4 linked regions of the Homo sapiens genome follow. The protein of the gene in region 2 interacts with the protein of the main gene of each other region in a pairwise test. Each region holds a gene or a part of one and is shown on either strand. Other genes may lie near its edges.

Region 1 (8,064 bases), on a different chromosome or scaffold from region 2:
GTTCACCAACTGGGCAATCTTGGAAAGTGAATCAAACTGTTTGTGCTTTAGGTTCTTCATCTAAGAGATGATAATTCATACCTTAAAAGGTATCATACAAAAATTAGCCAGGCATAGTGGCACGTGCCTGTAGTCCCAGACACTTGGGAGGCTGAGGCAAGAGAATCACTTGAACCCAGGAGACGGAGGTTGCAGTGAGTCGAGATCGTACCATTGCACTCCATCCTGGGTGACAGAGCAAGACTCTGTCTCAAAAAAAAAAAAAAAGTATCAACCCCTAATGGGCTGGTAAAATGAGACAGTATGCAAAGTATCTAGGATGGCACGGTGGATACAGCAGGGGCTCAATAAATAGTACTTATCATTATTGGGATTATTGTATATAAGGCACAGTGCAAGGTACTGTGAAATATAAAGACCAGAAGTAAACATATTAGGGTGGTGGGTCTTCCCCCTCAACCCTGCAGACAGAGTTCTGAATCCACTTGCTCAGTTAAGGGCCCTTTTAGCTCTAGCCTGTGATTCTGTACTTCCAAGTTGGCACTTAGAAGCCAACAACCATATGTCCTCACCACATTGCATCAGTTCAGGTCAGGTGGTTTCTTAGTTTAGAGTTAACAAAGCCAAGATATAAGACATTGACACCTTTAAAAAGAACCACAGGTAGGGAATGGCCCAACCAGGCAGCCTTAGTTTCTAAACTTAGGACTTGCTGTTGCCGTGTGTATTTTTGTTGGAAGAAGACCTCTAATTCAGCCTGAAGCTGGTATCATGAATCATTCAAAGGCGTGGTGTGATTTTGACTAGAAGCTGGACCAGATGCTCCGTGCAGGTTTGGAAGCAGTTACACTTTTGTGGTTTGACTAACCTTTTTTATGAGTGTGTTACTAAAGAAACGTGAGCTGTTGGCTTTTCAATTACTGTAGTTTACCCTTTCTGGGTTTCATACACATTGAGTCATCGTGTCTACAGGTGACTGATAATCATCTGCACTGCTCAAGTTACCGTAACTCAGAGACGAGGGGATCTGATGATTGCAAGTTGCATGCACGTGAACATCTGAGGCTGCCCCATCTCCTTAACAATGAACAATGGTCTGTGTTAACTACAGAATTCAGTCACATATTTCCACTCATCCAGGGGTTTATCTTCCTCTTAATGTTTTGCCTTTTACAATTTTAGCACTCAGCTGTTTTCTGACATATGCTGCAGGTGGTATAGATTGTGAAATTGTAGGCCTTGTTAAGTAAAGCAAACTCTTAGGAGAAAGGATAAAATCAGAGTTTGTGATGTGCCTACCCCACCCAGAAACCTTCTGGAGCCTCTCTGTTGGGTGAAAAGAGAAAAAGTTTCTCAAGGACCCCTGGTATTTAGGGAGATGAATAGAGGTGGCCACAGTGGAAAATAACCAATAACCTTAAAAAGGCCAAGAAACCGAAGTTCATCATTTCTGTGTCACATTCTAGGGAATGAATGTCTGTGACCTTAGCTGGCTCTCATGTTCTCAGTCTTCCAGATGGCCTTGACCAAAGATATATCCAATCTGGAAACTGAAAATAAAAAACATTGATTACTTTGGCCAAGGTCTACTCTGCTGTTGCTTCTCATTGAGTTTCCAAGACAGGGTATTTTCGTTTGCATATTTTTTTTCTCTCTCAGGTATTTCTCTGGAAACTATCAGGTTGGCCTTAAGGTCAGCTGCTTGTGGGGATGCAAAGACAAATTCATCTCATGGGAATAGATCTTTTAGCTGGTTCTTCTGGCTCCAATTTCTCACTGTTCTGGTCTGCCTTACACATTGCTGTTACGTTAACCACAAACCTGTCTTTCTCAAGGGCAGGTAGCCTTGGCTCTTGGTTCGGATTCACACCCTACAGTGGGCCATTCGGAATGCCCACCATTCGGTCCTACCATGCATTATCTTTTTTCAGTGTTTCCCCAAATGTAGGATGCAAATTGCCAGCAAGCACATGGAGCATTTAAAAACCTGGGTCCACACAGCAGGATAATTATTTTCTTTCCAGTTCTCTTTCAGTCTCCTGGATCATACTAAGGAGAAAAATTTAGACTTAATTTGATGCCAGTTGTCTTTAACACTAATCTCACACTTGGTAATCTCTGTTTTTAACAAAGGGGGAAGGGATCTTAGTCTCCAAGTACTCACAGTAGTATCCGATCAAAATTTAATGAAATGCTCTGTTTCATTGTCTTTATTTTTCATAGTTACCTTCTACTTGTGGAAAGTGATTCTGGTTTTCCGTTTATGTTAGTGATATAAAGTTTCCTTAAAAACCACATTTATTTTAGAAAAAGAAAAAAAGAAAGAAAATGTGAACCAAATCAAACAGAGGAAAAAAACCCAAGCATTTACCAAGTGTTTTCCATGTGGCAGGCCCTGTTCTAAGTGCTTTCCAGTGACCCTGTGAGGTACATACAATTATCTTCACTTTACATGAGGACACGGAACATAGGTTAAGTGACTTGCCCAAGGTCACAAAACTGGTGACCAATGGAGCCAGCATCAAACCCAGCCCATCTGACACCAGAGTTTATTCTCTCAACCACCACACTGCCCTGGTGTGTGGATATTGCAGAATGTGAAGGAAGAGTGAAGCCTGAGAAATACTGTATTTCATACTTCTTGATCGCGTTTCAGCCAGACTCGCTTTCTGCACACGTCCCGTGTAGTCCCACCTCTCTGCCTTCATTCCTGCACTCCCCCTCAACTAGGATGTCCTCTCCCGCTTCTCTGAAAATCTAAATTCTTCCAGTTCAAGACCCTTCTCAAAATTTAGATTTTCCAAGAATGCTTTCCCTTCCCCAAGTACTTCTGAAGTTTCTGCATTCCCTTAATGCCTAAATATACAATTTATACCAAATTGTCTCACCGATGCCTGTATGTTACCTTATTATTCTTTTTAAAGAACACGTTACTTCCCTGCCTAAATGCCTCAAATGTGGGCATTTAGAATAAAAGCAAAGACCTCCATAGAGCAAAGCAGTCCTTTTACAACTTTTTTTTTTGAGACAAGGTCTTACTCTGCCACCCAGGCTGGAGTGCAGTGGTGCCATCTCAGCTCACTACAATCTCTGCCTCCCAGGCTCAGGTGATCCTCCCACCTCAGCCTCCTGAGTAGCTGGGACTACAGATGCCTGGCTAATTTTTGTATTTTTTTGTAGAGACAAGGTTCCTCCATGTTGCCCGGGCTGGTCTCGAACTCCTGGGCTCAAGTGATCCTCCCTCCTCAGCCTCCCAAAGTGCTAGGATTACAGGCCTGAGCCACCGCGCCCGGCCAACTTTTAACTTATACTTTTTCTCGAGTTCTATATATATATAGGTCTTATTTCTCATCCACTAGGTTGGAGACACCTCAAGAACAGGAACTGGTTCTTCCAATCCTTTTGTTTTCTCATGGCATTTTTTCTTCTTCTTCTTTATTTTCATTGCTGAACCCTTTACTGTAGGGCAGTGACAAATTTTGGAATCTCAACATGACTAGGAAACATTATAGAAGGATATGGTTTAGCAAATCCCTCCAGGATCCAAGCTGACAGAATGGAGAGGCTCAACAGTGACCTCAGCCTCACCTCCAGCACTCGGCTCCACTTCCTCGCTTTCTCTCCCCTCTCCCCACCACTCACCACTGAGCACATCTGCCCTCACTGCAGTCCCCATCCCTGCCTTCCCTGTGACCAGAGAGCCTCTGTTTTCTAACACACAACACCCACACACTCTGAAGGTGGCTAAACTCTGTTTTCAAAACTTCTCAGCAGTTTGACATGAGAAGTAGGAGAGGGTGACCACAAGTATATTTTTTCAGTTAAGTGTGAGATAGGCCCTAATGATCACATGTGTATCAGAGATACACTTGCCAAGCAAAGGAAGAGAAACACACGTTAGGAAAGGGACAAAGACCATGATCTCTTCTCAAGAAAACTTTTCTCAAACTTTCTACATTTGAAGCTCTTTCACTTCAGTCTCAGTCAGCCAGGACGGGTGAGTTTGGGGAGTAGCCAGTTGGAGTCTGGGGGGCTATTTTCTCTATCTCTGTAGCTATTTAAAAAGCTGCCGAGGTGAGGCACCGAGTGTCCCCACTCTTTGCAGCACTTCTGTCCCCCTGGCTACCTAATATTGCAAGCAGAAAATAACAAGCAAAAGCAAAATAAGAGTTGGGAGCCGACTGTGTCTTAAGAGATCATGAACTATAGCAGAAGTCCCAGGCTCCTGTGGGCTGGTGGCTCCCTTGTCCCTCTAGCCCCATCCTAGTGTCCTGCTTCTTTCCCTCCTTTCTTGAGGGCTCTCCTCTAACATGCACAGTGGGCATACCTTACCATGTGGCCTCAACTGAACCACATCTCTGCCCCTCTCTTCTGCCTGCTGGCTTTATTTTAACCATCCAAACACGTTGCTGCCGACCAGTGTCCCCTGAGACAGCACCATGGGAAACCATTCTGCCAGGCTTGGTCTTCTTGAGCAGCAGGCAACTTAACTCTCCTCCCTTTTTGAGGTCTCTAGAAAATATTTACAAACTCTCTGCCTTGGCAGTGTTCCCTTTGTAACCCTTTCTGTCACTTGTTCCAGGTGAGAAGCGCCACTGCTTTGATGTCAACTATAATTCAAGTTACATGTATGAGAAAGAGAGTGAGCTCATACAGACCCGCATGATGGACCAAGCCATCAATAACGCCATCAGCTATCTTGGCGCCGAAGCCCTGCGCCCCTTGGTCCAGACACCGCCTGCTCCCACCTCGGAGATGGTTCCAGTTATCAGCAGCATGTATCCCATAGCCCTCACCCGGGCTGAGATGTCAAACGGTGCCCCTCAAGAGCTGGAAAAGAAAAGCATCCACCTTCCAGAGAAGAGCGTGCCTTCTGAGAGAGGCCTCTCTCCCAACAATAGTGGCCACGACTCCACGGACACTGACAGCAACCATGAAGAACGCCAGAATCACATCTATCAGCAAAATCACATGGTCCTGTCTCGGGCCCGCAATGGGATGCCACTTCTGAAGGAGGTTCCCCGCTCTTACGAACTCCTCAAGCCCCCGCCCATCTGCCCAAGAGACTCCGTCAAAGTGATCAACAAGGAAGGGGAGGTGATGGATGTGTATCGGTGTGACCACTGCCGCGTCCTCTTCCTGGACTATGTGATGTTCACGATTCACATGGGCTGCCACGGCTTCCGTGACCCTTTCGAGTGTAACATGTGTGGATATCGAAGCCATGATCGGTATGAGTTCTCGTCTCACATAGCCAGAGGAGAACACAGAGCCCTGCTGAAGTGAATATCTGGTCTCAGGGATTGCTCCTATGTATTCAGCATCGTTTCTAAAAACCAATGACCTCGCCTAACAGATTGCTCTCAAAACATACTCAGTTCCAAACTTCTTTTCATACCATTTTTAGCTGTGTTCACAGGGGTAGCCAGGGAAACACTGTCTTCCTTCAGAAATTATTCGCAGGTCTAGCATATTATTACTTTTGTGAAACCTTTGTTTTCCCATCAGGGACTTGAATTTTATGGAATTTAAAAGCCAAAAAGGTATTTGGTCATTATCTTCTACAGCAGTGGAATGAGTGGTCCCGGAGATGTGCTATATGAAACATTCTTTCTGAGATATATCAACCACACGTGGAAAAGCCTTTCAGTCATACATGCAAATCCACAAAGAGGAAGAGCTGACCAGCTGACCTTGCTGGGAAGCCTCACCCTTCTGCCCTTCACAGGCTGAAGGGTTAAGATCTAATCTCCCTAATCTAAATGACAGTCTAAGAGTAAGTAAAAGAACAGCCATAAAATAAGTATCTGTTACGAGTAACTGAAGACCCCATTCTCCAAGCATCAGATCCATTTCCTATCACAACATTTTTAAAAAATGTCATCTGATGGCACTTCTGCTTCTGTCCTTTACCTTCCCATCTCCAGTGAAAAGCTGAGCTGCTTTGGGCTAAACCAGTTGTCTATAGAAGAAAATCTATGCCAGAAGAACTCATGGTTTTAAATATAGACCATCATCGAAACTCCAGAAATTTATCCACTGTGGATGATGACATCGCTTTCCTTTGGTCAAGGTTGGCAGAGCAAGGGTATAAAGGGGGAAATTGTTTGGCAGCACCAACAGAAAACAAACAAACAAAAAACAGCTACCTAAAACTTCTTGAAAGAGTTCATGGAGAATTGGTGATACAGACCCAAAGCAAATTTGCCAATGATATTTTCCACAAAAAAAGTCCAAAAAGTATGGCTCAGCCTCCCCCTCCCCACAGGAGAGGAATTGGAGATAGATGGCATGTGTGTTTAGATCGGAGTTGAGCTCCGGAATGGGGTGAGGAGGGACACCTCTATTGAGAGGTTCTCCTTGATCAGGCAGGCTTCGGCCCTTTTTTTCCCATTTAAATGGAACTGCTGTATTCCATGAAAATTCCTGAAAGTCTGATCACGGTTCTGCAGATGTATAAGTCATCCTTGTCACTCATAATATGTACATACTATCAGGAGGAGTGCTGTTATCATGGTAAAATTAGCACTGGAATAGGAGGTCACAAAATGCTGGCTAATTAGCTATGTGACTTTGAGAAATCGTTTAACTTTTTTTTTTTTTTTTTTTTTGAGACAGGATCTCACTCTGTTGCCCAGGCTGGAGTGCAGTGGTGCAATCATGGCTCAGTGCAGCCTCGACCTCCCCAGGCTCAGGTGATCCTCCCACCTCAGCCTCTTGAGTACTGGGACAACAAGTGCACACCACCATGTCTGGCTACATTTTGTTCTTTTTGTAGAGATAGGGGTCTCACTATGTTGCCCATGCTGGTCTTGAACTCCTGGGCTCAAGCAATCAGCCCGCCTCAGCCTCCTAAAGTGCTGGGATTACAGGTGTGAGCCACCACACCCAGCCTTATTTAACTCTTAAAACTCAGTTTCCGGCCAGGCTCGGTGGCTCACACCTGTAATCCCAACACTTTGGGAAGCCGAGGCAGGCGCATCATTTGAGGTCAGGAGTTCGAGACCAGCCTGACCCACATGGTGAAACCCTGTCTCTACTAAAAATACAAAAATTAGCTGGGCAGTAGTGGCACATGCCTGTAATCCCAGCTACTCCGGAGGCTGAGGCAGAAAAATCGCTTAAGCCTGGGAGGTTGAGGTTGCGGTGAGTGGAGATCACACTACTGCACTCCAGTCTGGGCGACAGAGTGAGACCCTGTCTCAAACAAAACAAAACAAAAACAAACAAACAAAAACAAAAAAAACTCAGTTTCCTCATCCATAAAATAGGAATTAGATTTCAATGTTCTCTTAGGTCCCTTCTAGCTTTAATTCATATGTGATTATGCAGTAACCACAAGGTATTTTTTAAACCTCCTAATGTATGGATATTAAGCAGAAGAGTATTTATATGAATACATGTTTCACATTCCTTTGGTATGAAAATGGTGTGTTAAGTTTTTCCTTTAACCACTGAGTTGTGAATGTGAAGAAGGTGGTGGAGAGGAACAAAAAACAGAAAGGTATTTTGATCTTGCCACAAAGCATACACACAAATTGGCACATGCAGCTGTTTGCCAAAGCCTTCTTTTTTTTTTTACTTTTTAAGAAATTATGTTAGGGAAAATAAATTCTGCTTCCAGGGACAACTTCATGGAGCCTATTTACAAATTAAGAGTCAGCTTAATTTGTAACATTTCTACCAGAGCCAAGAATCCCAAATTCCTGGTAGATTAGTGTTTTATTTCTAAGGGGCTTATGCATTCGGCTCCAACTCAACTCGTCTATGTGCTGCCAGTAATTAAAATGTTCCACCTCAGACTGCACAAATGGCTTATCCTTCTTTGTGGCATGGCGTCTGTCTCAGGAAAAAAGGTTTTATGAAATTCCATGGCAACAGTCCCAACATGTTTGAGACTTCAGCTAAAGGAATGGATGTATTTTGGTGTGTAGTCTTCAGTATATCACTGTATTTCCGTAATACTAGACTCCAAGCTATGCCAGATTGCTTATTCCCTTTGTGAAAGAGGAGTTGCTCATTACGTTCTTGAAATATCGCACATCCTGTTGGTTCTTCAAGGGA
Region 2 (7,954 bases):
ACAAACAAACAAACAAAAAAACTAGTAAATTGCTTTTGTTGCTCTACATTGGTTTAAATGCATGGTCTAGCATGATAATGCTAGTCTGGCAATACGCTAGTTCCTGGTCAAGCCAACCATTCTTCAAGATCATGCTTGCTCCTGAGCTGCTGAATAATTTCCAAAGAAAATCACTTAACATGGCAAAATGCTTTCACTTTAAATTCATGATCCTGACACTCAGATGCACATTCATTACTTCTCAGTAATTACTGAAAGTTACTGAAAGTTTCTAGTAAGCCCACCCACTCTTCTACCCTCCCAGATGGTTATTTCCTATTAGCCTCTCTCCAAGGTTACCCAAGGTTCCACTTCTGACCATGATGGAATAACAAGGACTGGACTTAACTTCCTACCACAAACAACTAGAAAACTGGGCAAAATATATAAAACAACTGTTTGCTATTATTGCCCCCAAATTTCTGCCTGGAGGCAGTTTCCAGATCCTGGGCATAGAAAGGTAAACCCACTGCCTAGGGACTTTATTGAGTTGAGGAGACAGAGATCAGAGTTCACAGATGTGGAAATTGAAGGGCAAAGTTTTGGAAGGGATGAAGCTATACAAATAAATAAATAGAATTCATAAATCTGAGACTTTGCTAAGTACTTGGCTGTTCATGTATGGATTGACAATCCACACAGTCGAGCACAGAATGACCAGGGAGTATAAGCTAAATAATTCTTAGAGCTCACAGAGGATGAGAAGACATTTGAGCTCTGACCAGCCAGAGTGAAGAGTCCTCAGTGAAAACCAAGGAATTCATTGAAGACCTCTGAGCAGTTATTAATTAGTAGTAAGGTCAAATTATTTCTGGAATGAAGACTACTCTAGACCTACCCTAATAAAGCTTAAAAACAGTCCACAAATGAATCAAACTCATCCACAAATAACTGGCTGAAAAAAACAGCACAACCCTTCCTAAAGGGGGACAATTCAGACACTGAACAAGGATGCAATTCACAACGTCCAGTATTCAATAAAAAATTATTATTATTTTTTGTTGTTGTTGTTTGTTTTTGAGACGGAGTTTCGCTCTTGTTGCCCAAGCTGGAGTGCAATGGAGCGATCTCTCGGCTCACTGTAACCTCCGCCTCCCAGCTTCAAGCAATTCTCCTGCCTCAGCCTCCCGAGCAGCTGGGATTACAGGCGCCCGCCACCGTGCCCAGCTAATTTTTTGTATTTTTAGTGGAGACGGCGTTTAACTATGTTGGCCAGGTTGGTCTCAAACTCCTGACCTCAGGCGATCCACCCACCTTGGCCTCCCGAAGTGCTGGGATTACAGGCGTGAGCCACCGTGCCCGGCTCAATAAAAAATTATTAAACATGCTAAGAAGCTCAACTCATTTGAGCTTAAAACTTCTTAAAGCCTGAGGAAAAGGAAAAATATATAATTCTCTCTTTAAATGTTGAACAGTTTGTGACATATTAAAGATACTTAATCAGAAGAAATTAATTCTACAATATTCTTAAAGGCAATCTTTTAGCTTTTAGATAAAAAACATTTGATAAAATGGGTTTCACTTCTTCTAGGATGACTTCCATCACAATTCTATTTTAAGACTGTTTTATGTAGATTTGTAATCTGGTGTTTTGAAACAACATAAAACTTGGTTTCTCTTTTAACAAAACTGAGAAGAGTTCTCATGCCTTCTTTTTCTCAAGGTAAATATATCCAGTTCTCTCTATCTTATTCTGACAAAATTTTTCTTATTCTCTGGATGCACTCTGGTTCCTCCGTGTTTTTTAATTAAATGCCATTGCTGCCGTGTTAAAACTAGGAACAAATAGTTCTACAAAGACTAGAAGTCCAATAAACCATGGGAGTATAAAATATATTGTCATAGTTGATGTTGTCAATAATAACCATGATAAAGGTCATAAAATACTAGTTTCTAAAATTTATGAATCCTTTTATCTATGTCAGATGCTGTGCTAAGTGCTTCATGACGGCTATCTCATTTTACTCTCACAACTCCACGAGATAGATACCATTGTTTTGTTTTATAAATGAGAAATTTAAATCACTGAAAGGTTTATAAATGAACTCTTTCCACACTTATACTGTATAATAAGCCACTCAAAAACTCAGCGGTTTAAAACAATACTCATTCATTATCACACATCTACAGGTTGACTGGAGTTTGGCTGATCTAGGCTGGGCCCTAGTTGGGCATCTCTGCATCTTACTAAAAGATCGGTTCAGGCAATTCTGTGCCATATGCATGTGATTCTGGGACCAAAGAGCTTGCTTTGTATGTACTTCTCATGGCAATGATACAGGCACAAGAGAGAAAGCAGAAATATGGGGTCTCTTTAAGATCTTGGATCTGATTTGGCACACCGTTGCTTCACCACAACCTATTGGCCAAAGCAAGTCACATGGCTAAATTCAAAATCAAGGATTGGGGAAGTATACTCCACCAAAGTCCATGGCAAAGGTGTGGATGCTAAGAGGCATGAAGGATTAGGGAGAATAATTCAATGTAGCACAAAACGCTAAATAATACTTCCAAAGTCATACCCATTGTAGCAGTCAGGGATTCAGTTTGGCTGAATGTAGCAAAAAACCCAAATAATAGTAGCTTAATAAAATAGGAGTTTATCTTCTCTCATGCAAAGTCTGGAGATAGCCAGTCAAGAAGCTGATAGGGCTGTTCCATGACGTTACCAGGAACTCAGGTTCCTTTTTCATTTTTGTTCCACCATCCTTAAGATGTGACCCTCATGTTTATGTTCACAGCAAGGCTGCTGGAGCTTCAGCCAGCATATTCTCATTTCAAGTAGAAAGAAAAGGAAAGGCAATAGACATAAAATGGAAGTGCTTTCCCTGACACCTCATCCAGTGATTACACTTACATCTCATTGGCTAGACCATGTCACAGGCCACTCTCACTGAGAAAGAGGTTGAGAGATTTTTTTTTTTAAAAGAGAACACTGTCATTCCCAACACAGGGTTAAATTAGTAACAGAAAGAGAAGAAAACATTGACATTAAGTAGGAATTAACAGTATCAAACATACTTCAGGGAGTATTTGTGCCAGGATTTGCCCATTAGTTTAAAACTATACTTAATATGATGGTATTATTCTTACCATCTTAAAAGATATTTAATATTCTAATATATAATATATGCTCATGGAAGACATTTTGGTAGCTATCTTAAAGTATAAAGAAGACAAATCAGCCATAAGCCATTACAAAGTTACAACCACTGTTAAAATTTTGCTATCTCACCGTCCTTTGGTTGCTTTACCTTGTATACTTACAGTATATTTGTATATCTAAATTGGGTTCATTCTCTACAAATAGCCAGTCTCATCTCCCTTGTATTTTTAAATTTTGTTTTATAGATCATAAGACAATATATACTCATTATGGAAAAATCTAGAAAAAACAGAAAAGTATAAAGAAATAAAAGTAATTTACCTATAATTCCATCCTTAGATCTAATTGCTTGCTGTGATTTTGAAAAACTGACCTACACTTTTTGTGCATTATATGTATGTCAATATAGTTTAAGTCATATTATATAAAAATTTCGCATTTGGCTTTTAACAAATATAAGACAAACACAAGGTTTTTGTTAACATAATTTTAAATACCTGCCTGATATTTTACTTAAATAACGTGTTTAGATTTCTAAGGCTGTGCTATTATAAATCTTGTTACTCTGAACATCTATTTTTACACAAGCTTCTTCCACATTCCGGGAACATTTTCTAGAAGGCGGAAATAAAATTGTGTTATATTATGATGTATATTCTTGAGTTTTTGTGTTGATTCATTTCCTAGTAATCAGGGAATGTCCTTAAGCAAAGCATATTCTGCATATTTGTTTGCAGTTTGAGAAAAATTACTGTTTAAAAATAAAACCTTGTTGTTTGATGCTCTCCTTCTAATGAGTATTTAATCCTTTTTCACACTTTCACGTCTGAAGGTGGGCCTAACGATATTATCGTTAAGGGATAAAACCTCATTATTTTGACTCGGACACTAATGTGTTCTTATCATGTGCTTCTTGAATGAGCAGTTTTCTCTTCGGGCATCTTGGAGCGTTCTGTTACAGACTTCCTTTGAACAACGGGACATGAAATAAAACCTCGATACTTTTTACTTTTGTTTTTTAAAACTAGATACTTTTACAAGAACTCTATTTGCCCAGGATACAGCCCTTCCGTTTTCCCAGCCTCTCCAACTGGCTCCTCCCTCTCCCCCACCCCGCTTTCAAAGCCGCCTCATCATTCCCACGCTAGCAAGTTAATATCCTTATTTACGAGAACTTGTGTTTCACAGTCTTAACCACGGAGGTTAAGATGTCTCTGCCTGAAATTCCTTTGTTTTTAAAGTTTTTCCAGCCCATCTTTTGGGGGAAAGACCCTCAAAGTGGGACCCCGCCCCACCCCCACCTGGCCCCGCCCCCTCTGGTCCGGAGCCTTCCATCTCCATGGTTACGCGGCGGTGGCTGCGAGCGCCCAACTGCTCCGACCGTCGCGGTGAGGGCCCCAGGACAGAAGCAGACAGACACGGCTCCTGCTGTCGATTCCGATCCAGGTCAGCCTACTCGGGGCTCCGCGCCCTTGACCCGGAGGCGTACCCCGCCAGGCGGCGAGCTTGGGGCGGCTGGCGGAGCTCGGGCGGCTGGAGGACCGCGTCCTGCCTCGTCGAGACTTAGCTCTCAGTCTCGATCCTTTAGGCTGCGCCGCCGCAGAGCTGGAACAGCGGTCCATTCCTGCCGGAGGCGCCACCCCAGGGCTGCAGGGCTGCCCTCTAGCCTTTGCGCGGGTGCCTGAGGCCTCCCGCTTCTGTTTCGCTCCACTGGCTACCCCAGAAGCCGGACCTCGGGAGACTTAGTAATTGGAGGGTGGGTGCAGGGAAGGTGCTGAGCCGCGTCCCTAGCGACCCGGCAGCGGCGCGCATGCGCACACAGATCCGGAGCGCGCACACAGATCCGGAGCGCGCACACAGATCCGGAGCGCGCACACAGATCCGGAGCGCGCACACAGATCCGGAGCGCGCACACAGATCCGGAGCGCGCACACAGATCCGGAGCGCGCACACAGATCCGGAGCGCGACGGACTCTCCCACTGACTGGCACTTGCGCATGCGCTGCCTGTGATCTTGGAGTACTGATTATAAGCTGTTTTAAGCGATTCCCTTAAGCCGCGCACTGTTGTAACCACTAAAAACAGGACTAATTTAGTCCTCACACCTCTGGAAAGAAGTGAAGCAAGTGCCCAAGGTCTCACAGCTGGACAGTGGTCGGGTCACCATGGAATCCAGGCAATCTGGTTTCACTGGACAAAATGCCTAGTGCTTCGTACTCATCCATTGGAAAGCTAATAATGCTGAGGAGTTGGCTTTATCTACCTGATATTGCCTTTGTTATACTCTACATGCCAACTTCCATTGTGCTTAGTTACTGATATTCAGGAAAATCAGAAAACTCGATCAAAACCTACCACTTTTTCCTTATAGTAAATGCTTTTTTTTATCGAGAGTCTGAACTCTATTTTAGATGTGCGGAAAAGATCATTTTAATGATCTGAGCAAGAATTGTTTTCCAAGATTCTAGTACAGTTCTGAAGGGTCATTTAATGAATGTGGTGGAATAAGCATTTCTCCTTTTAAAGCTGTACTCTTGGGTTTCTCATTAATTTTACCTCCCTCCCCTACAAATACTGCTTAGCCTTTTTTTTTTTTTCCTGAGACACAGTTTCGCTCTTGTTGCCCAGGCTGGAGTGCAATGGCACCGCAACCTCCGCCTCCCGGGTTCAAACGATTCTCCTGCCTCAGCCTCCCAAGTAGCTGGGATTACAGGCGTGTGCCACCACTCCCGGCTAATTTTGTATTTTTAGTAGAGACGGGGTTTCTCTGAGTTGGTCAGGCTGGTCTCGAACTCCCGACCTCAGGTGATCTGCCTGCCTTGGCCTCCCAAAGTGCTGGGATTACAGGCGTGAGCCATCGCGCCCAGCCTGCTTAGCCTTTTTTTTTTTTTTTAATTAAGAATATCATGATAGGAATATATGTTTAGTGACCATAATTTAAATAATTGAAAATGTTATTTATCAAATGTTTCAATTATTTGAAATCCCAATCGTTGTCTGTCTTCAATAAAGTCCTTCATTTTTAAAAATAATGAAAAACAGGAGAGGCCTAGATACTAATAAAAATGCTAATAAGCTAATAGATGATATTATGACTGTTTACAAATACAATATTGCAGAAATCAAAAGAGGAAAAAAATAAATTTGCATAAAACCACGGTTTTTTTAAAAAAAATTGTTGTTTTATTTAGCCAGAATGCCTCCAACTCAGGCCGAAAGTGTTATAAGGAGTATTATACGAGAAATAGGACAAGAATGTGCAGCCCATGGAGAGATTGTTTCTGAAACTCTGATTGCTTTTATGGTAAGAAGAAATATTTTTGTGATTACTGTTTTATTAAGAGGTTTTTTAAGATGTGGTGTCCATTTTCCCCTTTAAATTCTGTGAGGCTTTCATAAATGTTTTTCAGTTGAAGCATAACGAGATAATTGGACAAATTTGTGAAAACATTTTTAAAAAGTTTATAGAGCATGTGAGTTCTAGATTTATAGAGACATTTAGAAGACCTTGATGAGTTTTGGAAACATCAATAATGTTCTCCTGTGTGGGAATTTTTTGACGTGTATTTTTGTTTGCCGTTGTTAAAAATTACTCATTGCTGTGGTTTCTCTGTTCTTGCTTTTGGTTAACAATACACAATAAAAATACAATAAAATATGCCATAGTTTCCCAATTGAAAACCTAGCCATTGCTTTCAACTTATTTCCCCATATAACTTTTCTAGCACCATATTCAAGTTTGATGTTTGTTGCTTCCTTTTTTCAACCTCTAACAAGGGTACTGATGAGTTCAGTAATAAGAAGAATAGTTGGAAAACCAACCCCAACGTAATCAAGAGGTAGTTGTTTAAAAAATGGAAACATATTAAGCTAATAATATGAAATAAAATTGCTTAATGGATTCTTTCCTAGTTAATGGACTCGTTCCTACTTTTTTCTAGGTGAAAGCTGTTGTCCTGGATCCAAGTAATGGCTTTAACATGGATAGAACCCTCATGAAAAGTGATGTGCAGAATCTTGTTAAGGTGATTACCCAACAGTCCTCAAATTTGCAATTACTTATTCTCAGTTGTAAATACAATATTTGTATTAGTCATTATTGCCTTCAGCTGCATGAAACAAAAGCCCACAAAATAGTAGTATACACGAGATATTTTTCTCATAACACAAAATCTGGAGAGACATAGACCATTCTTCCTGGCTTCCTGGGGCACACCATCCTTGCAATATGGTCATCTGGTGGTCAAAAGATAGCTACCCTGCCTCTAGGCAGAAAGAAGGGGGAAAGACAAAGGGCAAAATATGTGTGCCAATTGGGTCTATCACCTTCTATCCAGAAAATAATAATTTTCCCAGAATCCCTCCCATCTACTTAACATTTATTGACCAGAATGATATTGTAAGTGACCCAGGGACATTTCACTTCTTTTTTCTTTCTTAGATGAATAAATCCTTGCCCCAATCCAAATTGAGGCTCTGTTAGTAAGGAAGGAAGGGCAGGGAAATTGGGCAGGTAGCAGCATCTGCTACAGTATTTTAGTGAAACCTTGTTACTAATGTCTTACATTGCAAACATTAACTAGTTCGTCATATACTGTGAAGTTAAATAGAACTAAATTAATTTGCATTTCTCTAATGCTGAGTGATGTTGAGCATTTTTTTCATGCTTTTTGGCGATTTGTATGTCTTCTTTTGAAAAATATCTATTCATGGCCTTTGCCCACTTTATAATGGGGTTATTTGTTGTTGTCGAGTTGTTTGAGTTCCTCGTAGATCCTGAATATTAGTCCTTTGTCAGATGCATAGTTT
Region 3 (8,735 bases), on a different chromosome or scaffold from region 2:
CATCTCAGCAGTAAGGTAGAAGAAGTCTTAAGTGAATGCATTTTAGTGACCAATGTCCCGGCATGGAAGCTATGGAAGGAAGGGCAAAATATAAAGCTTCTAGCTGAAGGGTTTCCCATAAAGGGCCTCGCCAGGAATCCTTGGCATACCTATCACTACTGGGGTCTGGCAGAAAAACCAAAGCAGGAGGAAAGCCAGCTGAATTCTGACTTTGTTTCTACCTCACTGGACCACTACTGCCACCACCATATTCTTTTATTCTGTCATCTAGGACCTTCCTTTTCCCTAACTTTAAGTGGAGATCTCATAGGCTGCCATTTTTACATTGCTAGGCTCTCAATAACAATAGCTAGTGATAATCATAATTACACATTTCTTTTTATTGAGAGTTTACCATAAGCCAGGCACTGTGTTGAGAAGTTCACGTGCATTTCCATATTTAAACCTTCTTCCTACCCCAAACCTATTGTTTTTACAACTTTGCAGATGAAGAAATGTCAGAGAAGTTAAGTATATACAAAGCCACCTTTATCAAGTAGTAGAGTAGGAATTCCAATTCAAGTGTGTCAGCTGCCACCACCCGAGCTCTTAACTGCCTCCTCTCATGTGGGCAAGGAACAAGGCAATAGTAAGGGAAAAACCCCCAAGAAATGGCAGAGATCACCGATGGTGTTGCCAGGAGAGAGAAGCCACAGAGTCACAGCTTTGCTTGCAGAATATTCAAGGTTCCTTTTCAAAGTCCTAGAAATGGCTGGCTGCTCTGCAGCCCTGTCCTGTTGCTGAGACAACATGAGGGGGAGGCCCATTCCCATGAAACATGGCTGCAACCTCCTCTTCCTTTAGCTGTGATGGTTAATTCCCCAAGATATTTGCCTGGGATACTCCTATGCATGGATCCTGCCTCTGGGCAGTTTGACCCATTGAGCATTATTCGCATGGGAATGGGGGTCCCTCTGGGTTTTAGGGACCTACAAAAGCGTTTGAGTCCTAAATATTTTATGATTAGTCCCACAATACAAAGAAGAAAACTGCCACATGGAAATCAGTAAATATTTAATTAAATGCAGAGTATAACATTATGTCAACTTCATTAACTGTTGGATTTAGTAGTCATAAAAATTTCATTGCATTTGGTAACAATTTGTAGGTTGGAGTTTTCTCACTGCACAAGATTTCTCGAGTAGGCACTAAGATTGGTGAGAAATCACAGCCCATCACAAATTAAATAAATTACTCATGGCCAAAAACTTTCAAAAGCAAAATGGCAAAAATCCTTTCAATTTTCCTCTATAGCCAAAAAGTTATTTTTATGGTGAGAGGTGGGTGTGTTTAAAATATGTTAGATGAGGAACCTAAAAGGACCTACAAGAGTAAGCAGCCTTAGGGGCTATATGATGATTGTAAAAGAGCCTAGGCCATTCCCACGTTTCTGAGTTTTCCAGCCTAGCCATGTTTGTGTCAGAGATGAAAGCCAGATGAGAAGAGGCTTTGACTGGATGGGAGGTAAGGAGAATTGCCTCCTCCTTAGGCCTTCCTGGTTCCACAGAGAAAAGCTAAGAATCCCAGAATTCTAAATAATGATAGCCAACATTCACTGGATACATACATTAGCCAAGCTATTATAAGCACTTTACATGTATTATTTCATTATCGTAAAACAAGTCTATGAGGTCAGTATTTTATTGTCTCTGTTTCATAGATGAGCAAATGGAGACATTGAGGTTAAACCAACCTGCCCAGGGTAATGTAAGTAGTCAGGGGGAATTCAAGAAGTTTTCCAAGCTAAAAATAATTTACAGATTAAATGGTGTCCATGACCATTAAATGCTTCACTTTAAACTCTAAAAAAGACAGAGACCAAACTCCTCTTCTTCACTACTCTATCTTCAGCACCTCAAACAGTGCTGGGCATAGATACATGTGTTGGAGGAACATAACTCCATGTTGGATGGAAACTGGAATAAGTCAGTTTATATCACACTGCTCTGCACCAGGCACTTATGGAATGCTTTGCCCCGCCTCTGTCACTAGGTGATTCTGTCTAGGGTAGACATCTTTTTCATCATCTCTAATCCCTGTGTCTTTCACAATTTTGACCCATGATGGATGCTCAAAAATGAACAAAGCCTGGAAAGGCGTAAGTGATTATGTGAATTCGTTTCTCCATCACAGAACAACTTCCCCAGTACAACACAATTCTCCCTCTCTACACAAAACACAAAAGCTGCTATTCAGAAACTCCAAAGGCATGCATTTCAGTGTAATCAACAAGCAAACAACTGTATAACACGTTTATCTGTCAGTTGTTGTTCAAGGGACTTTCCATGTGTTAAGCAATTGGTTAGTAATAGAACATCTGTAGTAATTCTACAAAGCAAGTATTCTTCATTATCATCCCATTTTACAGACTAAGAAATCAAATGTTGTGGGCTGAATTATATGCTGCAATCCTAAACCAAATACCTCAGATGTGACTGTATTTGGAGATGAGTCCTTTAAAGAGGTAGCTAAGATTAAAAAAAAGAAAAAAGCCATTAGGGTGTGTCCTAATCTAATATGACTGGTGTCCTTTAAAGGAGTGATTAGGACAGGGACACATATACAGGGAAGACCATGTGAGGACATAGGGAGAACACAGCCAAGTGCAAGCCAGCGAGAGAGACTTCAGAGTGAAACTAACAATGCCAACATCTTGGTCTTGGCCTTCTAACCTCTAGAATGGCAAGGAAATAAAATTCTGTTGTTTAAGCCACACAGTCTGTGGACTTCGTTATGGTAGCCCTACCAAACTAATACACCAAGGCACAGAGTAACTTGCCTAAGCTTACATTGCCAGAAAACGTGAACTCAGAATCTGAACCCAGGGACTCTGGTTCCCGAGAATATGTATTTAATGATAAGAAATGTTCTCTGTGCTGTCCAATATGGTAGCCACTAGCCATATGTGGCTACTGAGCACATAATATGTGGCTAATGCAAATGAGGAGCTGAATTTTTCATTTAATTTATATAAAAATAAAGTTAAAATTAAAACAACCCCATGTGGCTAGTGGCTACCATATGGACATAGCTTTATACTATTTCTAAGTACATCACTTAAGATTTTTGCAGAATTTTCTAGAAATCTCGTCTGTGCACTCTAAAAACATGCTCTATCTTTGTTCCGTATCCCTGCTGTATTTGATTTTTTTTTTTTTTTTTTTTGCAGTCCTTTCTGATTTAGCCCCCGTTGCCTGGTCTCCTGCTGAGGGGGAGAGGGAACAGGAAGAGTGAGTGAGCTGGCTAACTTCCAGAATCCTGGGGCCTGGGCAGTGCAGGGTCGTTGGCGTTCTGCTCTAAGCTTAAGGTGTTAGCCAACCAAATGCCAAGCAGCACAAACACTGAGTGACATTTTCAGAACTATTAATATTTCATCAGAAATGATCACTTTTCCTTTAAATACACTATTTTAAAAGGTTTTCTACATTCTTAACTATAATTTTATTCAGTCTAGGCCCTCAGAATTTTCCCCAAAGGAACACATCTTCAATTTTGTAATGAAAATCAAAGGAGAATGAAGCTCAGATTTCAAAATTTAGAGTAAACATTTCCAGGAACTCAGCCCCTCTGTAAAGAGCAAGGTTGCGTATTGGGCACCTACTGTATACCAGGCACTTTACATACAGTATACCATTAATTCATCCAACACATATTTTTTGAGTGCCTACTATGTGCCAGAAACATGATCCTCATAATTTATTAACACCATTTTACAGAAAAGGAATTCCTCTCATCCTTCTCAAATTTTTCTCCTCAAAGAAGTCGGCCTGGACCACCATGGAATATTGCCTCCCCTCTTCTCCCCAGTGCCTCACTTTGTTACTAGGTTGGTACAAAAGTAATTGTGGTTTTTGCCATTGCAAGTGATGGCAAAAACCGCAATTACTTTTGCACCAACCTAATAGTTATTTTCCATCAGAGTCCCATTGCATCTGTAATTATTGCTGCTTTACTCGCTTGGCTGGTTTGCATCGATCTCTCCTCGCTAGTATACAGGCTCCAGGAGAGCAGGGACCATGCCATTTTTGCCCACCCTTATGCTTCTTCAGTGCCCAGCAACTCATCGGGCACAGAGGAGGGGTTGCATCAGTACTGGGGGAATTATGAATGGGGATGGGAGAAGTTCAGAAAGTTCTTAAGGTCACACAGCTCGGAAATGAGTGTCAGGATTCAACCCAGCCCTGCATTTATAGACTGCCATCTTCCTCTATTTGTGTCCATTCTTCTTTCTTCCGTCTCCACCCTCTTGCTTTTCCTTTTCAGGGGAATTGCTAGAGAAGCAACCCCCTGACTCTCGGAACCAGAAAGTCTCCCTCAGCAGAGGTACTGTGTCAGTGCCCAATTGAATGAAGCCGCTTCAGTGAGGGTAGGGGCCTGTTGATCAGCAAACAGCTAACTTAGCCCTTCTCCCTGCACCTCGGACCTCCTACTCCTGCTCCTACCCACCTACTGAAGCTGTCTCAGTGGTCAAGGGCTAGATCAGGCCTAGAGTGCTGGGGTCTGAGTCTCAGCTTCCCTTTTCTCAGGGGGCCTTGGACGCAATCCCTTATGACTTTGAGATTCGCTTTCCTCCCGTGTAGAACGATAATAAAAAGTGGTACTAATTTCACGAGCTTTAATAGGATTGAATGTGAGCCCAGCGCTTGGCACAGGGCAAGCGCCCCATAAAATGGCAGTTAGGATTAAAATCGAGGTTGCCGGGGGACCCCCAGGCAGGAGCTGAGATTTGTGTGGAGCGGCGAAGTGGGGCGGCGGCGCGTTTGGCTTTGACTTCTGATCCCCCGAAGCGCTCTGGGGTCCTTTGGGCCCCACCCCCACCCACCCCACCGGCGGGTCTTGGGCTCCGAACCCAGGGCGCCCCGCGCACCGAGCCGTTGCGTTTGAAACCCACAGAAAGAATTCCCCCGCTCGACGACGGCGAGGGTGTGGGAGCTACTGGCAGGCAAATTGGTGGGAGCCGCCCGGCCCAGCCTGCCTTGCCGAGTCAGCGCGCTCTTGAGCCGCTGGGCCCTTCCCGGTGCCCGCCTGGCAGCGCGGCGCGGCTGGGGCAGGGGTCTGCTGGGGGCCGGGGACTAAGGGCTGTGGGCCCATCCACACACGCCTCATCCCTTCTTTCCGGGGGCAGCAGAGCAGCAGCGGGAGACCGGGAGCAGGAGGGGTAGGGCGAGAGAAAAGCAGGACCTGGGCCGGGGGTGGGAGTCGGGCCGTTGACGCTCGCTCTGCGAGGGGCTCCCTGGGAACGCCCAGGCGAGCGCCTCCTGCGGGGCCCCGCCCCCCGAGTGCCTACAATGGTGCCAGGCCCGCACCCAGTCCTCCGCGTGGCTTAGCGGGACAGCATGGGCTGAGCCCAGGCGCCGAAAGTTGTCACGGCGGCGTCGCAAGGGGGCAGTGCCAGGGACTGTGGGGAGAGCCAGCCCTCCCCTTCCAGCTGTTCCCAGATGTCATTCTGCCCGCCCAGGCGCCTGGTTCCTGAGCTCCGCAGCATTCCACTGTTCCTAAGCTACTGGTTTTTGTTGACTTTTAAATATTTTCTTCTAAGGGAGAGGGGGAGGGAGGCAAAAGTCAGGAAAGAGCAAATAAAAACAAATCAAAATAAGCCCTCCCCTCCCCAAAAGAAAGCTGTCCTCCACCCACCCCTCCCACACAAATAGAAGGCCTCTGAACCTAACCACCTTGCTGGAGCGAAAGCCAGACAGAACTGACCCACTTCTGCCAAGCCCCATCCTCATCTCCCTTTCTGGTGAATGAGGGGTGGTGGTGGTTGTGTTCTAGCCCTGGGTGGACAGAGGGGCTTCCAGAAAGAGAGGAGGAGGATGGCCAGCGGGAATGGGCTTCCTTCATCCTCGGCCCTGGTGGCCAAGGGCCCCTGCGCCCTGGGCCCATTCCCCAGATACATCTGGATCCACCAGGACACACCCCAAGACAGCCTAGACAAGACTTGCCATGAAATCTGGAAGAGAGTTCAAGGCCTGCCTGAGGCCTCACAGCCCTGGACCTCCATGGAGCAGCTCTCTGTCCCTGTGGTTGGAACTCTAAGAGGCAATGAGCTCAGCTTTCAAGAAGAGTAAGTACCCCCCTACTCCATTGGCAGCAAGGGAGGAGGGAGGAGATGAAGTCTGACCTTCTGGGGGAATGTTCTGGCCCACTGTTGAGGCTGGTGAAACCCTAAAGGCTGTATATTGCCCCCTCCATGGTCCTTTGTCCAAGCTTTATAGAAGAGCTGACCAAAGTTCTGAAGTTTTGTGGGTGAAGAGTCAGATTAGGGCTATATTCCAGGCTGCCTCTTCACCAGCCCGTTAAGCAGACATTTCTCATCCTAAACGCATGTGAATCTGAGGTCCTTGAAAAACCACCCTAGCTAAGGCTAAGGGTTATATGGCTTGTGGCTTTCCCCAGAAGCAACTAGAAGATCCTTCCCCTCTCCCACCTAAAGGCTAGGCATTCACATGGATGAGTCTGATGGTTTTAAATCACATCTGGAATTCCCTAATACAGGGAGCAGCTGTCCCATTCAGCCTCCACAGAAGCTGCTGCAAGAGCACACATCAAAATATTTACTGGGAAGGCACTGACATATTCAGAGGACATAATAGAAAATTAAAGTGCGGGAAGATGGCTGTAAATAGCCCGTTTCCGGGATGGGAAATCCTGTGTCTGGGAAACACAGAGCTAAGTGTTTCTCCATCAGGGCAAAGTTGGGCAGATATTGTTGAGGATGGATATTCGAAAGGAAAGGAAGGAGCAGAGAGGAAAAAGGGAAATTAGGAAAAGAAAGTAAATCTGCTGTGGTTATTAATACCGCCGTTGAGCACTTACTTATTTCACGTTTTGCATCTTCAAAGTGGACTGTAAACTTAATTAATGTTCCCAGAGTCCCTGTGAGGCAGGTATTAGTGTCCCCATTTTACAGATGGATTAAGTGTTAATAATTAAGAGCTAATTAAAGACTAACCGATAATTAAGTGTTGCCTGCTCCAACACATGCTACAGCTCAGTTCAGAGATGCTCTGGAGTTGGGGAGCCATTCAGGCATTTATCAGCTGCCTCGGGTTTCAGGGATGCCTAAGCAAGAGCTAAGAAGAAAAGCAAAGTGTAAATGACACCCAGCTCTACACTACCTGCTGTCCCTCTGTGGGCTCATTTACTTACTGCAGATGAAGGTGGAAGGCACTTTGGCTAGTCCTGCCTCCCTGCCCTGTGCTCAGCATGACAAGGCTCAGACAGGAATGGCCCATCTACAGCTAAAATCCTGCTGTCAGGCCCTTCAGTGGCACTGAGCCCTTCTCCCCTGCTCATTGCCATCTGCTCTGGGACAGGGCCTTGGCAGGAGGGCCCATGGGGCTGTGCTCTGCTCTCAATGGCCAAGAAGCTGATTGTCCACTTTGTGGACCAAGGGTCAGTAGCAATTTCCAGTAGATGGCATCCTCTTTGCCAGGTCACACAGAGTTAATGGAGACAGACTCGACTTCCAGTCTGCACTTGGCTGAAAATTGAACTGGTGCACCTTTGGCCAGCTGCTTAACTCCATTTGGCCTTTACTTCCTCATTTGCAAATTGAGGGTGATATGTGCTGCCTTGTCTACCTCAGAGTTGATAATGAGGATCCAATGTGATGGGAGACAGGGAAATGAAAGATGCATTATACAAATCAGGCTGCTCTTAACATGTACTTCTTCAGGTTGGGATTTGTTGTTGTTGTTGTTGTTTTTGTTGTTGTTGGCTTCAATCTGGGGTTCACACTATGCTCCATATACCTCAAGGTGCTTCAGGGGTCACTGTGGAGTCAAGTGGGCTGGTTGCTGGGCCCCAAAATCCATTTCAGCCAGAGCTGTTTAGCTTTTATCAGTTTTACTTACTAGAGTTCTGAGTAGGGCTGAATTTGAAAAACATGTTTCTGCTATTGAGAAAAGAGATAGGAAACCAATGACTTAGACGAATAAACGACATCCTAATTGTCAACCAAATAGAACACAATGAGCTATTCTTAAAATAAAGGCGGTGTGCTGGTGGAGTCAGATAACTCTGGTTTCAGATTCCATTTCAGCCCCATGCCATTTGAAGAATTTGTTACTCTTTAATTTATCTAAACTTTGGTTTCCTCATCTGCCAAATGGAGATTAATACTATACATTTTGTAGGGTTGTTGGAATGATTAAATGGGATATTTAAACATTTATGGTAATAATTCAGATTTGTAAAAATTCCTTGCAATTCAGATGTGATCATTTCTTTAAGCTCTACAATTATTGCATGAGGTAGGTACTCTTTTAAACTTTCCATCTCTTTTTACTTTTTATTATGCAAATTTTCAAACACATAGAATAATAATATGGTGAATATCTATGTGTCTATCACTGAGTTTCAATAATTATCACATTGTGCCATTCTGGTTTCAATTGCTACCTCCACCCCTCCATTTATAAGTGAAATTACTTTTACAGATAACGTGGCTGAGGTTTGGAGGGGTTAATTTCTTTGCCCAAGCTCCTACAGTTAGGAAGTAGTAGAGTTTCAGAAATGAAACCCAAGACCGCCTTGGCCCTGAGGCAATAATGTCGGCTGTCCTGTCTTAGAATCTGGGGCATCTTTGAATAGTCAAAATAGTTGGGAGTCCCATATACTGAATGATCACACACAGAGTGAAAAGCCAGGGAGCTGTTCTTACTATTTCTAGAATGCCTTCAGGTGCACAAGAT
Region 4 (8,064 bases), on a different chromosome or scaffold from region 2:
ATATCGGCTCACTGCAACCTCTGCCTCCCAGGTTCAAGCAATTCTCCTGCCTCAGCCACCTGCGTAGCTGGGATTACAGATGCACGCCACTAAGCTGGCTAACTTTTTGTATTTTTAGTTGAGACACGGTTTCACCATGTTGACCAGGCTGGTCTCGAACTCCTGACTTCATGATCCACCCACCTCAGCCTCTCAAAGTGCTGGGATTACAGGCATGAGACACCACGCCTGGCCCTCTCTCTCTTTTGCTTTTGAAGGATAATTTCACAGAATACAGAATTCTAGGTTGGTGGGTTTTTTTCTCTCAACACTTTAACCATTTCATTCCATTCTCTGCTTCTTTGCATGCTTTTTGAGGAGAAGGAAGAGGTAATTCTTATCTTTGCTATTTATAGCAAATAATTACTTTTAATCTTCCTGTGGCTTCTTTCAAGATTTCTTTTCTTTATCTTTGGTTTTCTGCAGTATGAATATGATATACCTATGTGAAGTTTTTTGTTTTGGGGGGTTTATGCATTTAACCTATTTGATGTTCTCTGAGCTTCTTGGATCTGTGGCTTGGTGTACAACATTAATTTGGGGAAATTTTAAATCATTATTGCTTCAAATATTGCTTTTGTTTCTTTCTTCTGCTGGTATTCTCATTATGCATATGTTATACCTTTTGTAATTGTCCCACAATTCTTGGATATTCTGTTACCATTTATTTTCCAGTGTTTTTCTTTCTCTCTCTCTTTTTTTTTTTTTTTTTTTTTTTTTTTGAGATGGAGTCTTGCTCTGTCACCCAGGCTGGAGTGCAGTGACGCGATCTTGGCTCAGTGCAACCTCCGCCTCCTGGGTTCAAGCGATTCTCCTGCCTCAGCCTCCCGAGTAGCACATGCCTCCACGCCTGGCTAATTTTTGTATTTTTAGTAGAGCTAGGGTTTCACCATGTTGGTCAGGCTGGTCTTGAACTCCTGACCTCATGATCCACCCGCCTCGGCCTCCCAAAGTGCTGGTATTACAGGCATAAGCCACCACACCTGGCCTTTTTTCTCTTGATTTTTCAGGTTTGGAACGTTCTGTTGAGATATCCTCAAGCTCGGACATTCTGTCCTCAGCCATAGCCAGTCTACTAATGAGCCCATCAATGGCATTCTGCATTTCTCTGACAGTGTTTCTGACCTTTAGCATTTCTTTTTGATTCTTTCTTAGAATTCTCATCTTCTGCTTATATACCTGTCTATTCTTGCATGCTGTCTACGTTTCCCATGAGAGTCCTTAGCACATTAATCATGGTTGTTTTACATTCACAGTCTGGTAATTCCAGCATCCCTGCCACATCTGAATCTAGTTCTGATGCTTGCCCTGTCTCTTCAAACTCTGTTTTTTTGCCTTATAATCTTTTGTTGAAAGCCGAACATGATTCCTGTACTGGCTCTTCTGGAGGCTTCTGCCCTGTTCTCGAGGAGCTTCCTACTTCAGTAAGCTGCAATTCCCTGTATTTGCCTGTCTGTTTCTCCAATTTTAGGTCAGCAATTTGCCCTGTGACCTTACTTCTCTGCCAGATCTAAGAAGAGTTGCTGGTACTTCCAAGCTCCTTGCATGCCAGAGGAGAAGCCACACTAGAAGTCCCGTTGCCCATATTTCAGCTGGGTTGTCTTTTAATTGCTGATTTCTAAGTGTTCTTTGTACATCTGTATACAAGTTCCTTGTCAGATGTATGATTTGTAAATATTTTCTCTCATTCTGTGATTGGTCTTTTCACTATTTTCACTAAAGCACCAAAGTTTTTAATTGTGATGAAGTCCAACTTATTTATTCTCTTCTTCTGTAGCTTATGTTTTCGTGTTATACGCAAGAAACCATTGTCTAAGCCAGGGTCACAAAAATTTACCCTTATGTTTTATTCTAGGAGTTTTATAGTTTCAGCTCTCATACTTAGTTCTATAATCCATTTTAGGTTCATTTTGTGTAAGGATTGAGGTAGGGGTCTAATGTCATTCTTCTATGTGTGGATATTTAATTGTCCCAGCACCATTTATTGAAAAGACTATTTTCCTCCATTGAATTATTTTGGCAACTTTGTCAGAAAATCGATTCACCATAATTGAGTTCTCTTTAAATAATTTTTAGCCTTTATTTCATTTCCTGTTATTTATGTTTCCCTTTTATATGACACAATAGCTATTCAACATTGTGGTTCTCTCCATTTCAGCTTCAGTTCTACTATGTTTTTATTTAGATTGTCATAAAAGAGAAGGAAGGACATTCTGTCTGACTAAATGGGAAATCAGAGTGAGCATAAGCTCAAAGAAAGAATGCACAGAAGCGCAGAAGATTTTTTCAGAAAAAAATGAGCCCAGCTGGCTAAAGTACAGAGAACATTTATGGCATTGCGGTAGCATTGAAATATGGTCATTATTATTATCATTTTTTTTTGAGACAGAGTCTCACTCTTTCTCCAGGCTGGAGTGCAGTGGCTTGATCTCAGCTCACTGCGACTTCCACCTCCCGGGTTCAAGCGATTCTCCCGCCTCAGCCTCCCGAGTAGCTGGGACTACAGGGATGCACCACCATGCCCAGCTAATTTTTGTATTTTTAGTAAAGATGGGGTTTCACCATGTTGGCCAGGATGGTCTTGATCTCTTGACCTTGTAATTCACCCGCCTCAGCCCCGCAAAGTGCTAGGATTACAGGCGCCAGTCACCGCGCCCGGCCGAAATATGATATTTTTAAATGATAGAAAAGTGTCAGAAGCAGATTGTGAATAGTCTTTGTAAGTCTGGTCAAGAAATTTATAAATTGGACGAGCACAGTGGCTCACACCTGTAATACCAGCACTTTAGGAGGCCAGGGCAGGTGGATCACCTGAGGTCAGGAGTTTGAGACCAGCCTGGCCAACATGGCAGAATCCCGACTCTACCAAAAATACAAAAATTATCCAGACATGGTGGCACATCCCTGTAATCCCAGCTACTCAGGAGGGTGAGGCAGGAGAATTGCTTGAACCCGGGAGACGGAGGTTGCAGTGAGCCGAGACTGCGCCACTGCACTCCAGCCTGGGTGAGAGAACCAGACTCTGTCTCAAAAAAGAAAAAAGAAAAGTGAGGACTGTAAAAACTACACTAGAATTGATAATTAAGAAGTCACTATTGTTTTTAAGAATTCAATTTTAGTTCATCAGCCAGGTGGAAGCTAAATGTCATTATACTGAAGATTACATGATGAAAATATAAATACAGCAAGTTCAGAGGTAAAGAAGAGACAAGAGTCCAGGGTTAGTGGTAGGATCACAGTCAAGAGAAGTTGCATTATTACCCCAAGTGGAAAACATTTTACATATTTGCAAAGAAAGGAAGGAGCCATTGGGGAACATGAGACTGAAGATAAGAGAATGATAGGAAGCAAGAAGGAAGACAAGAGGAGTTGTTGTTGGAAGGGAAGGGAGGATAACTGAGGGGAAATATTCCACAAGAGTTATGAGGAGGGGCCGGGCGCAATGGTGCACGCTTGTAATCCCAGCACTTTGGGAGGCTGAGGTGGGTGGATCACTTGAGGTCAGGAGTTTGAGACCAGCCTGGGCAACATGGCAAAACCCTGTCTCTACTAAAAATAAAAAAATTAGCCGGGTGTGGTGGCGCTTGCCTGTAGTCCCAGCTGCTTGGGAGGCTGAGGCAGGAGAATGGCTTGAACCCGGGAACTGGAGGTTGCAGTGAGCTGAGACTGTGCCACTGTACTCCAGCCTGGGTGACAGAGTGAGACTCTATCTCAAAAAAAGAAAAGAAAAGAAAAAGAATTACGAGGAGGATAAAATATACACCCTGGGTGGGAGAGAGAAAAAATTAACATTAGATGAGCAGAGAGAACTTTTTTCCTTCTGATTTGGAGGGAAGGGTGAAAAGTTGGGGGTGAGTGCAAATGGAGAAGAGGATACCATCCCCGAGAGTTTCTGTGAGACGCCCTTGCTCTTCACAGTACAAGGAAAATTTACTGTAGGAATCTGTGGGAGTAACGATGAAGAGAAGTGCCACAGTCCCCTGCAAAAGCTTCACTTTACTCACACAAATCTGTAAACAGGCCATTGGCCATATTTCCATGACTTCACCAGGAACACTCTCCATGAGAGATTGGGTCAAAGGGCTGGTCTAGATTTAGGCATTGACTTGGATCAAGCAAAAACTGAGGTTAAAAGTTTGCTAGTCAAGTCAACCTTTAAGTGTCTAAAAGCATTTTCGGCTAGTGATCTGTTTCAGCATTCGGAATCCTGACACTTCAGTGAGAGGGAAATGCACCCAACGGTAGTTTAGCAAAGAGAATGAGCAAGAATCTAAACTTATTTGTGCTCCATTCCTTGTCATCATCAATACTATTGTAATAACATGAGGACATATTTCTTAGCTATTGCTTTGACTCCATGTATAGAGAGTTGGAGATTGGCCATTGAAGTTGGATATTGGCACTGCTGATTAAAATTGGGAGGTGGCAGGGAGAGAGAGAGAAAAGGGGAGAGAGGCGAGAGATTACATCTTTCCCTCCTCTGAGGGAAGGGAGGAGAAAATTTATTAACCCTTGGTGATGGGAGAAGGCAACCTTCCTATGGTGGACAACTCTGAAGCTGTCTGAAAGACAATAGCAATGATTGACTGGAAGACATTGACAGGTTTTAGGTAAAGCACATTAGAGAAATATTTTCCTTTGCAGAAAAAATTTCCTTCCTTTGCAGGAGGAAAGCACAATCAAGTCTCATTGTAATTGCCTAGAGATAAACAGGTCTGTGGCAGGCATGCTGCACTGTATTGCTTTTCTAGTCCTGTATATCAATATAGTGATCTCAGTAGTGACAAATAGTGACAAAAATGTATTTGAGATTTTATATATATATGTATATATGCATATACATACATGTATATATATATATATATCCATGTTTGTGTATGTGTGTGTGTGTGTTTTTGTGTGTGTGTGTATCCATTCTGGGTTTTTCTACTTTACTCAGGAAGGAAGAGAAACATAATTGTTTTCACTTCATTCCAAATACCAAGTGAGTGTTTTTGGTTCATCTCAGACACTCATCCCAGTGACCACAGCTGCCAGTCATGATACAGTGGTACCCTGTACCTAGAAATATATTTTCCATCCATATATTCTCTTACCTACCAATAAGGGTTTCACTGGAATAAATTAAGCCAAGAATGTGAAGTTTTATGGGGTTTATCTGTATTTATTGCTATATAACAATTCATGCAAAGCTTAGTGGTTTGAAACAATAATAATTTACTCTTTGTCAAAATTTTAGAGTTGCCTTGCTCAGCTGGGAGGTAGTTCTTCTCCATCTGGGATTGGCTGAGGTTGCTTATGCTGCTGTAGTTATCTGGAGGCTCGTCTGGGGCTGGGTGAACCAAGATGGCTTTATCTACATGTCTAGTGGTCAATACTGGCTGCTGAGTCTGCATGGTCTCTCCAGATAGGCAGCCAGATCTCTCTTTACATGGTGGCTCAGGCTCCCAAGAATGTGTAGGAAAGCCGCAAAGCCTCTTAAGGTCTGGGTTCTGGCACTCACACTATGTCACTGACACAATGCCACAAGCTATTGATCAAAGCCAAGCATAGGCCAGCCCAGTAAAATGTGGGAGAGAACTTAACTGCCACTTATCAATGAGATGAATTGTGGAGATTCCATGGCCATTTTTAACGTCTTGCAGAAAAATTAAACACAATTCCATCTGCAAAATGCCTTATAGTGTATCTGACACAAAGTAAATTATTTTCAAAATATTTATTGTTTTTATTATTATCATTACATATGAGCCTTTTCCTCCTGAATAAAAAACACTTTTTGAGTGTAAGGAGGTGGGTGAGTTTTTCTTTAGATGAACTGAAAGTTGATCAGAATATGTAAGACAAGAAAATAAAACTATCCAGCTGGGCGTGGTGGCCCACACCTGTAATCCCAGCATTTTGGGAGGCCGAGGTGGGTGGATCACCTGAGGTCAGGAGTTCAAGACCAGCCTGACCAACACGGTGAAACCCTGTCTCTACTAAAAATACAAAATCAGCCAGGTGTGGTGGCACATGCCTGTAATCCCAGCTACTTGGGAGGCTAAGGCAGGAGAATTGCTTGAACCCGGGATGCAGAGGTTGCAGTGAGCCAAGATCGTGCCATTGCACTCCAGCATGGGCAACAAGAGTGAAACTTCATCTCAAAAAAATAAATACATAAAATAAAAAATAAAACCATCCATATAGGATTTGTTACACTAGTATTAAAACTAAATACACATGTTGTAGAAGAATTTGGGTATTTCAGTGAAATGCTCAGTTGAAGCATGACAAATTTGGCAGACCTAAACTACGAAAAAGCAAATGAAAAGTTTAAATTGTATTGATATGCTTTGGATTTGTGTCCCCACCCAAATCTCACATCAAATTGTTATCCCCAGTGTTGGAGGTGGGGCCTGGTGGGAGGTGACTGGATCATGGGGGAGGATTTCCCCTTGCTGTTCTCATGATTGTGAGTTCTCATGAGACCCGGTTGTTTAAAAGTGTATAGCACTTCCCCCTTTGCTCTTTCTTTCTCCTGTCCTGGCCATGTAAGACGTGCCCTGCTTCTCCTTTGCCTTCCCCCAATAATTGTAAGTTTCCTGAGGCCTCCCCAACCATGCTTCCTGGACTGTGTGCAGAACCATGAGCCAATTAAACCTATTTTCTTATAAATTACCCAGTTTCAGATATTTCTTTAGAGCAATTCAAGAATGGACTAATACAGGTATAAAATTTTCAAAATGTCCCACTCACAAATTTATTAAGATTTAAGAAGTCTCACCTCCCCCTTTGTATTCTATCTGATTTTTAATCTTTGATTTTTGTCTTTTCTCATATTGCTTTTTTTAGGAATTAGAGAATAAAATCCCAGCACGATGTTCCTCACTGGAGACACCAGTCCAGCTGAGGACAATAGAGAAGCCACCCTTCCTCAATGTTCAGTATGTACTTAACATTGTACAACGAGGTGTACACAGGGAGCTTTACATTCAAGAATCATAAACATTCAAACTATTGAACGCACAGTGACACACTTGGGAGCCATGGGAAACTCCAAAATGTCACTTTAATGACTTAACATTCTTAGTCACAGAGAAGTGTAGCTCTTCCCAGGGCAGGTGGGCAGAAGTGCTGAGCTGTTTTCGTGATAGTGTGGTTGTATAATTCGTTATAAAGAGCCATTCACCAATGTTAGCACACTTTCTTTTTTTTTTTTTTCTTTAGGAAAAGATGTATTAACCAGAGAACAATCCAGCCCAATTTCCAGGCTAAAGATTTCATGATATCGGTCCAAACATCACACTATTTAACTCCCCAAAAAAACACTGGAAAAAAAGACTATCAGTGCTAACACATTTACTTATAAAATCTCCACCTATGTACCAATTTCTAAAACAGTTACAAGACAGATACACAATTTGGGGTAAACTAACAAAACAGACTATTATAAAATATTAAAAGCAATCCTCCTGGTCCACGGGCCCTTGTCGCCTCTTACTTGAAGTTGGCGTAACTGAGAATGCATCCATATATTCCTGCACCACCTTGTAGCAGAGCTCATACTGGTTCCAGGGTCTGGACCACTTGTGTAGCCTCTGTAGCCGCAGACTCTTGACATTCTGGAAGACGTCCAAAGTCCCTTCTACTTTCCCACGCGTTAGCTCACTTTCTATTTGTTGCCCTTGCAATAAAATTGACTAGGATTGAAGGAAAACTCTGCATTGGGCTAAAGGACCTAAATTTCAGCCCTAACCTGAGACTATGGCCTCTTTGGCCTTCCAGTGTAATGGCCTAAGAAACCTCTTAGAAAGGATAGGATTTGTAGGAAGTATAGGATTTTAGATGGGGACAGGTCCTCTCAGGGATCTGTTACTGTTTTTTTCTGCCAATAACTATTCCCAGATACTCAATGTATGTCACCATTTGCTCTGGTCACATATCCCAGTGAGCAATGACTATTGTCGCCTCCTCAGCACTGGATTCCTGAACATTATGGGCTCTTTGGACAACAGGATGAAGCTCTGATATCTAAGTGATCTG

What was found.
Region 1: the proteins of CFAP206 (region 2) and IKZF3 interact in binary tests that used the Homo sapiens proteins (3 or more experiments, as listed by UniProt).
Region 3: the proteins of CFAP206 (region 2) and C1orf94 interact in binary tests that used the Homo sapiens proteins (3 or more experiments, as listed by UniProt).
Region 4: the proteins of CFAP206 (region 2) and C9orf153 interact in binary tests that used the Homo sapiens proteins (3 or more experiments, as listed by UniProt).

What each region holds. Positions count from the first base shown.
Region 1 is NC_000017.11:39,763,012-39,771,075, reverse strand, and holds part of IKZF3 (zinc finger protein Aiolos), read left to right. Parts: intron 1-4,582; coding exon 4,583-5,286; 3' UTR 5,287-8,064. UniProt on the Homo sapiens protein: Transcription factor that plays an important role in the regulation of lymphocyte differentiation. Plays an essential role in regulation of B-cell differentiation, proliferation and maturation to an effector state.
Region 2 is NC_000006.12:87,403,499-87,411,452, forward strand, and holds the start of CFAP206 (cilia- and flagella-associated protein 206), read left to right. Parts: upstream 1-4,473; 5' UTR 4,474-4,591; intron 4,592-6,336; 5' UTR 6,337-6,341; coding exon 6,342-6,449; intron 6,450-7,086; coding exon 7,087-7,170; intron 7,171-7,954. UniProt on the Homo sapiens protein: Essential for sperm motility and is involved in the regulation of the beating frequency of motile cilia on the epithelial cells of the respiratory tract. Required for the establishment of radial spokes in sperm flagella.
Region 3 is NC_000001.11:34,172,007-34,180,741, forward strand, and holds the start of C1orf94 (uncharacterized protein C1orf94), read left to right. Parts: upstream 1-4,900; 5' UTR 4,901-5,783; coding exon 5,784-6,103; intron 6,104-8,735.
Region 4 is NC_000009.12:86,228,439-86,236,502, reverse strand, and holds part of C9orf153 (uncharacterized protein C9orf153), read left to right. Parts: intron 1-6,873; 5' UTR 6,874-6,899; coding exon 6,900-6,965; intron 6,966-8,064.